Homo sapiens: one gene and its partner. The protein of the gene in region 1 interacts with the protein of each later gene in a pairwise test. Each region holds a gene or a part of one and is shown on either strand. Other genes may lie near its edges.

The links.
Region 2: the proteins of IFT57 (region 1) and EXOC5 interact in binary tests that used the Homo sapiens proteins (3 or more experiments, as listed by UniProt).

The regions. Positions count from the first base shown.
Region 1 is NC_000003.12:108,166,925-108,170,424, forward strand, and holds part of IFT57 (intraflagellar transport protein 57 homolog), read right to left. Parts: intron 941-3,500; coding exon 869-940; intron 62-868; coding exon 1-61. UniProt on the Homo sapiens protein: Required for the formation of cilia. Plays an indirect role in sonic hedgehog signaling, cilia being required for all activity of the hedgehog pathway.
Region 2 is NC_000014.9:57,258,906-57,262,405, forward strand, and holds part of EXOC5 (exocyst complex component 5), read right to left. Parts: intron 1-3,500. UniProt on the Homo sapiens protein: Component of the exocyst complex involved in the docking of exocytic vesicles with fusion sites on the plasma membrane.

The DNA.
Region 1 (3,500 bases):
CTCGGCTGCTGATCTTTTCCAAAGTCCTAGTAATTTCATTATGGAGTTTGTCCAAAAATCCCTAGAAATTCCATGGAATTTGCAGATAGAAGAACTCACAAACATATTTTTTCAAAAATATTAAAAATGGGTTACATCTCAATCCATTCTACAAATAATCAACTACATGTGCAAAAGAAGACAGCTTGAAATTTTCAATAGCACAAAATATCTGTGATGAGAAATATTTTAACCACACTTAGAAGAGTTTTAGAATAAAAATGCACCTGGCAGTGTTAGTCAATTCATTTGTCATTATACATACCATAAAATTTATGTGACTATAATTAGCATTATATAACATTCACAATCAAAGTAAGGGAATAACGTGAGTTTCCTATAGCACGATTCAAAGGTGACTGAAATATTCCAGTTGGAAATAGATCCCTAAGCCTATAGCTCTAGCCTGGGACACATAACTTTTCAGTCTAGCTTTGCTTCTTTGTGACATTCTCCAAAGTCCTTGTTTCTGGCAGGACAGCAAGCCTGCGGAGGCTGTAAGTTCTAGACCTTGCTGGTCTGGTGTTCTTTCCTCCTTTAAGATTCAGAGAGGAAAGGATGATGAAATGTTTCTCTCTAATATATGTATTATCTATATATTATACATATATATCTTATATATATACATATATATAGCTTTTATTAATATGTAAGTTAGCTTTCTTTAGTTGGTTTAAATGTAAGGTCAGTTGAAATGTAACACGGTACATTCAATTAGTAAGTTCCTTAAAGGCAAAAATTGTGTCTTTTTATTCTTTCATGTTCTCTTATAACAGGTGTTCCACAGATGAGTAAATGTACATTGATTCACGTAAAGTAATTCATATACCTTGGTCTCCTTTAGAGCAGATTCAATTCCACTTCTGTGCTGGTGCATTTGGTCAACATGGATTCTCCAATCCTACAGGCATAGAGCACATAGAAATAATGTAAAAAATACTACATTTCCATCTTTCCCTACTTCTTGTGAAGTTGTAACCTTTAATTACTTTGGTTCCTGCCCTATTTCAGGTGGGATAGCCCTATTTATAGCTTGCAATCAGATTATAAAGAAATATGTGTAGAGCACTTTAGGATAAAAGGTTCTAAATAAATGTAAATTATTTCACGTGTTCACAGAGTGATGTCTGACAATTTAAATTATTCCTGCACTGCTGGTGGTTAATATTTATGACTACCCATTAAAATGAAAAAAAAATTCTAATTACTAGAAAAGAACTACTTGTTTAAGCAGTAACAATTATGTTTGCCAAAAGCAATTCTGAACTCAAATATCATATATCAAAGATTAGTTTGTCCCTTGGAAATGAAAATGGGGCCCTCATCTTCATGAAGCCTTTTGAGTCCCTTTCTTAATAAAGGAAGTTTATAATGATTACTGGAGTTCATGTATTTTAAAATATCATCTATTACTACTAGACTGATCTGAATTAGTGTGCAAATTTGAAATCTACATCAACATTTTAATTTCCTACAAAATATATTAAAAATATTTCAGTTTACTACAAAGTAATAATTTTTTATTTTATTTTACTTTAAGTTCTGGGATACATGTGCAGAATGTGCAAGTTTGTTACATAGGTATACTATGTGCCCTGGTGGTTTACTGCACCCATCAACCTGTCATCTAGGTTTTAAGCCCTGCATGCATTAGGTATTTGTCCTACTGCTCTCCCTCCCCATCCCCCATCCCCCAACAGGCCTGGGTGTGTGATGTTCCCTTCCCTGTGTTCATGTGTTCTCATTGTTCAACTCCCACTTATGAGTGAGAACATGCGGTGTTTGGTTTTCTGTTCCTGTGTTAGTCTGCTGAGAATGATGGCTCCCAGCTTCATCCATGTCCCTGCAAAGGACATGAATTCATTCTTTTTTATGGCTGCATGGTATTCCACAGTGTATATGTGCCATACTTTCTTTATTCAGTCTATCATTGATGGGGATTTGGATTGGTTCCAAGTCTTTGCTATTGTAAATAGTGCTGCAATAAACATATGTGTGCATGTGTCTTTACAGTAAAATGACTTAAAAACCTTTGGGTATACACCCAGTAATGGGATTGCTGGGTCAAATGGTATTTCTGATTCTAGATCCTTGAAGAATTGCCACATTGTCTTCCACAATGGTTGAACTAATTTACACTCCCACCAACAGTGTAAAAGTGTTCCTATTCTCCACATCCTCACTAGCAGCTGTTGTTTCCAGACTTTTTTGATCACCACTCTAACTGGCATGAGATGGTATCTCATTGTGGTTTTGATTTGCATTGTTCTAATTAACAGTGGTGATGAGCTTTTTATCATATGTTTTTTGGCCACATAAATGTCTTCTTCTGAGAAGCGTCTGTTCATATCCTTTGCCCACTTTTTGATGGGTTTTTTTTTTCTTGTAATTTGTCTAAGTTCCTTTAGATTCTGGATACTAGACTTTTGTCAGATGGATAGATTGCAAAAATTTTCTCCCATTCTCTAGGCTGCCTGTTCACTTGGATGATAGTTTCTTTTGCTGTGCAGAAGCTCTTTAGTTTAATTAGAGGCCATTTGTCAATTTTGACTTTTGTTGCCATTGCTTTTGGTGTTTTAGTCATGAAGTCTTTGCCCATGCCTATATCCTGAATGGTATTGCCTAGGTTTTCCTCTCAGGTTTTTATGGTTTTAGGTTTTACATTTAAGTCTTTAGTCCATCTTGAGCTAATTTTTGTATAAGGTGTAAGGAAGGGGTACAGTTTCTGTTTTCTGTATATGGCTAGCCAGTTTTATCCCTGATGAACATCAATGTGAAAACCCTCAATAAAATACTGGCAAACCAAATCCAGCAGCACATCAAAAAGCTTATCCACCATGATCAAGTCAGTTTCAGCCCCAGGATGCAGGCTGGTTCAACATACACAAATCAATAAATGTAATCCATCACATAAACAGAACCAGTGACAAAAACCACATGATTATCCCAATAGATGCAGAAAAGGCCTTTGATAAAGTTCAACACTCCTTCATGCTAAAAACTCTCAATAAACTTGGTATTGATGGAACATATCTCAAAATAATAAGAGCTATTTATGACAAACCCATAGCCAATATCATACTGAATGGGCAAAAGCTGGAAGCATTCCCTTTGAAAACCGGAAAAAGACAAGCATGCCCTCTCACCCCACTCCTATTCAACATAGTATTGGAAGTTCTAGCCTGGGCAATCAGGCAATAGAAAGAAATAAAGGGTATTCAAATAGGAACTGAGGAAGTCAAATTGTCTCTGTTTGCAGATAACATAATTGCATATTTAGAAAACCCCTATGTCTCGGCCCCAAAACTCCTTAAGCTAATAAGCAACTTCAGCAAAGTCTCAGGATACAAAATCAATGTGCAAAAATCACAAGCATTCCTATATGCCAATAATAGACAAGTAGAGAGCTAAATCATGAGTGAACTTCTATTCACAATTGCTACAAATAAAATAAAATATCT
Region 2 (3,500 bases), on another chromosome or scaffold:
TAAAGTAAGTCTCAGATCGTTTCAGAGAGATATTTCTGTATCTTGTTAAACCAACTAACCCATCGGTTCAAAAGTACTGCCTATCATGTATTTTCCTTAAATTTATTATGGATACCACTGTCTAACAAATCATTAAAACACTACCTCCTTTTAGTGAGAAACTTCCCTATATAATTCCTACTACACTATCAAATTCACACACACTTTTCTTTTTTTTTTTTTGAGATACAGTCTCACTCTGTCACCCAGTCTGCAATGCAGTGGTACAATCTCGGCTCCGCCTCCTGGGTTCAAGCAAGTCTCATGTCTCAGCCTCCTGAGTAGCTGGTATTACAAGTGTGCGCCATCACATCCGGCTAATTTTTATATTTTTAGTAGAGATGGGGTTTTGCCATGTTGGCCAGGCTAGTCTCTAACTGCTGGCCTCAAGTGATCTGCCCGCCTCAGTCTCTGGAAATGCTCGGATTACAGGTGTGAGTCACCACATGCAGCCAAGTTCACACTCTTATATCTACCCTTTAGGGTTCTTATCTTGTACCACCTACCCAAATTTCTCTGTACCTCAAAACAAACAGCCACACTTCCGTCAGACTATTCCAGTCTTCTTTTCAAGCCCATGCTACTCCTGCTTCCTAACCTGTGGCCAGGTAACTCACCCCACCAAGTATGGCCTTTCTCCTCCAACAATTCAAACACTGCTATACCATTATTCAAAGCCTGGCTCTATTCCCGTTTCTTCTTTGAAGGGTTCCTTCCTTACATGGTCTCCATTAATTTCTCCACTCTTAAACCCCTATGAAGCTTAAAAATTCAAATCCCAACACAGAACATTACTAATTGTCATTTTGTCATTTATTGATTTAGAATCATTTTCATAAGTTTCACTCTTTTCTCCATACTTAAATTGAAAGCAAGGGGATGCTGTGTCATACATTTCTCTTGCTTTCCAGCTGTAGTCAACAGAACAATGCCGAGCATACCAAAACACTAGCTAGTTGGGGCCATGGCTGAAACCCCTGCAGAGGGTCTTGAAAGTCATGCTCTTGATCCATACATCCAAAACCAAAAAGGCAGGACCACCACCCCACAACCCAGAAATAAAGAACAGGCATTACATGGTACTATCAATCAAAGATTCTAACAGAAACCAAATATGAGCCTAATACAATTCTGGCACTACAAAGAACTAAAAGAATTTTATAATATTCGGCCTCTACTTTCTAACCCCATTTTCTTTGATTTTTCAGTGAGATTCTTTACGTGTTTTCTGTATATTAATAAATAAGTTATATTTATTGAATACTGAGTTTTTAAAAAAGCACCACAAAATATTTTGTCTCAGGCTAGCAAAATGGATTTCAAAGGTAGTATGAAAAGGTAGAAAAATAAAGCTCATTAAGACACTAATATAACTAAAGCAAACTTTGAAAAAGTATTTTGAAAACTACTTGCACAAACACTACAAAATAAATAATTTTACTTTTTAAAATTAGTCAATGTTAACATTCAATCTTGAAGCCCTTTAAACTATGAAATTAGCCAATTAATCATGTTATCAAAATTGTTTTGAAGACTATTTAAACGATGGTAGTTTAGAATCTTACAAAATATTTTAGATTCTCTTAAGCAAAATATTTTTCCAGGATAGAATATATCTCATTTCGAACAGTAAAGTTATATATATTATGTCTATGTCCAAAAGGGAAAGGTAACAAATGTTACAATTCCTGTTACACTAGTCTCAGCAGAATCATATAATTAGATTTAAAATTCGTAATGCAAGAATGTTCTTTAAATATCATCACAGCCCAGCTCTTTCATCTCATTTTTATAAATAAAGAAACTGAGGAAATGAAATTTAAGTCTTATCAAGGTACTAAACCAGGATTCTAACCCAGATATTTTTCCCACTCTATTATAGTGCCTTTAACATTTATAGACTGTGAAATTACTTTAAATATTTAATAAAATCTGCCATTAGCATTTCAAATCAAATTAAGTGTATTGCCAAATACACACGTTAAATATTCTTACAGGCATTTAATAGACACCTTGGAAATGAAATTAAACAAGTGAAAGAATCATTTGCTTCTTTCGTTTATTATAACTTGAATAAGCAAAGATATGTAAATAACTATATTTTCTCATTTTCAAATTTCGGCTTCAAGGAAGTAACATCAGAAAAGTTTGCTAAGTTTTAAAAATATATATATACATAAACTATTGACAATCAAACTTTTAAATTATTTATCACTCAACTAGAACTTTCGTTTAATTTGTAGGTTATGTTTATTTGCACGGTGTTACATGAAATTGCAATCCACTTTTAAGAGAACAAGGCAATCAATCACTCTTTCAAATCTCTCTCACACATGTGGGCACACACACACCTCAACTATCTAATTTCCTGGGAACACCAGGGACTCAGTATTTTAGATTAATTACACACATGTGCAGTCTATAATACTGTCCTCAATTTAATGACTTGCTTATTCCAAAAGTTCACTTCCAAGTTGCTTGGACTGGAGAACTCCAAAGCATAAAATACTTAAATGGAACTCTATTACTCTTAAGCATCAACCTCTACCTCTACCACTGTCTCCACTAAGACCAGCAGAAGGCTATTAGATCTTGGTGCAGGTAAGAAATTGATCGGCCTCTGTTACAGTTATCTATTGCTGCCTAACAACCACTCAAATAGTTAGTGGCCTAAAATAACAATAATCATACTGTTCACAAATCTGATTGGAGGAGGGCTCAGCAGGGAAACCTGGTCTCTGCTCCACATGAAATAAGCTGGGGCTGCTCAACTTGGCTAGAAGATAGTCTTCCAAGATGGCAAGTTGGTGTTTACTGTTAGCTGGGAGTTCAGCCAGAGCCAAGGGCAAAGGGCCTTGGTTCTTTCAAAGGGCTGCATGGGCTTTCTCTTGGCATGGCTGCTAGAGTCCAAGAGGTTACCTAACCTTGCAAATCACTACATAGCATCACTTCTATAGTCATAGGCCTGTACAGATTCAAGAAGTGAACACAGAACCTACTTCCTATGGGAGGGGCATAAACATCACAATGTAGGATGGCAGATCTTGTGACCATCCTGAAAAATACAACCTTCCACAGCCCCTTTTTGTAATCCTCTCCTACTATAATCTCCTACTTCTTGGATCATTTACTCTGAGTCAACTGAGACTGAGAAGGCTGAAGTGTTCCCTCCCTGATAGATCTCTAATCTAGTTCTCATCTCAATCCACTTAAATTGAAAGTGGCCAACACCTAATTTTTTAAAATGGATACTACTCTCTTAATAGTATGCTTCTAAGCAATTTAAATTTCTCAACTCAATTTAGTCATCAAAAAAACCTTCTGAAGTAGATACCATTATTTCCCCCATTTTACAGATGAGAAAACTGAGGTACAAAGAGGTTGGGTAACTTGCCAAGATCACACAACTAGTAAGAGGCAGAGCTGAGAGATGTCTTCCACCTCCTGGCTAAATTACCACC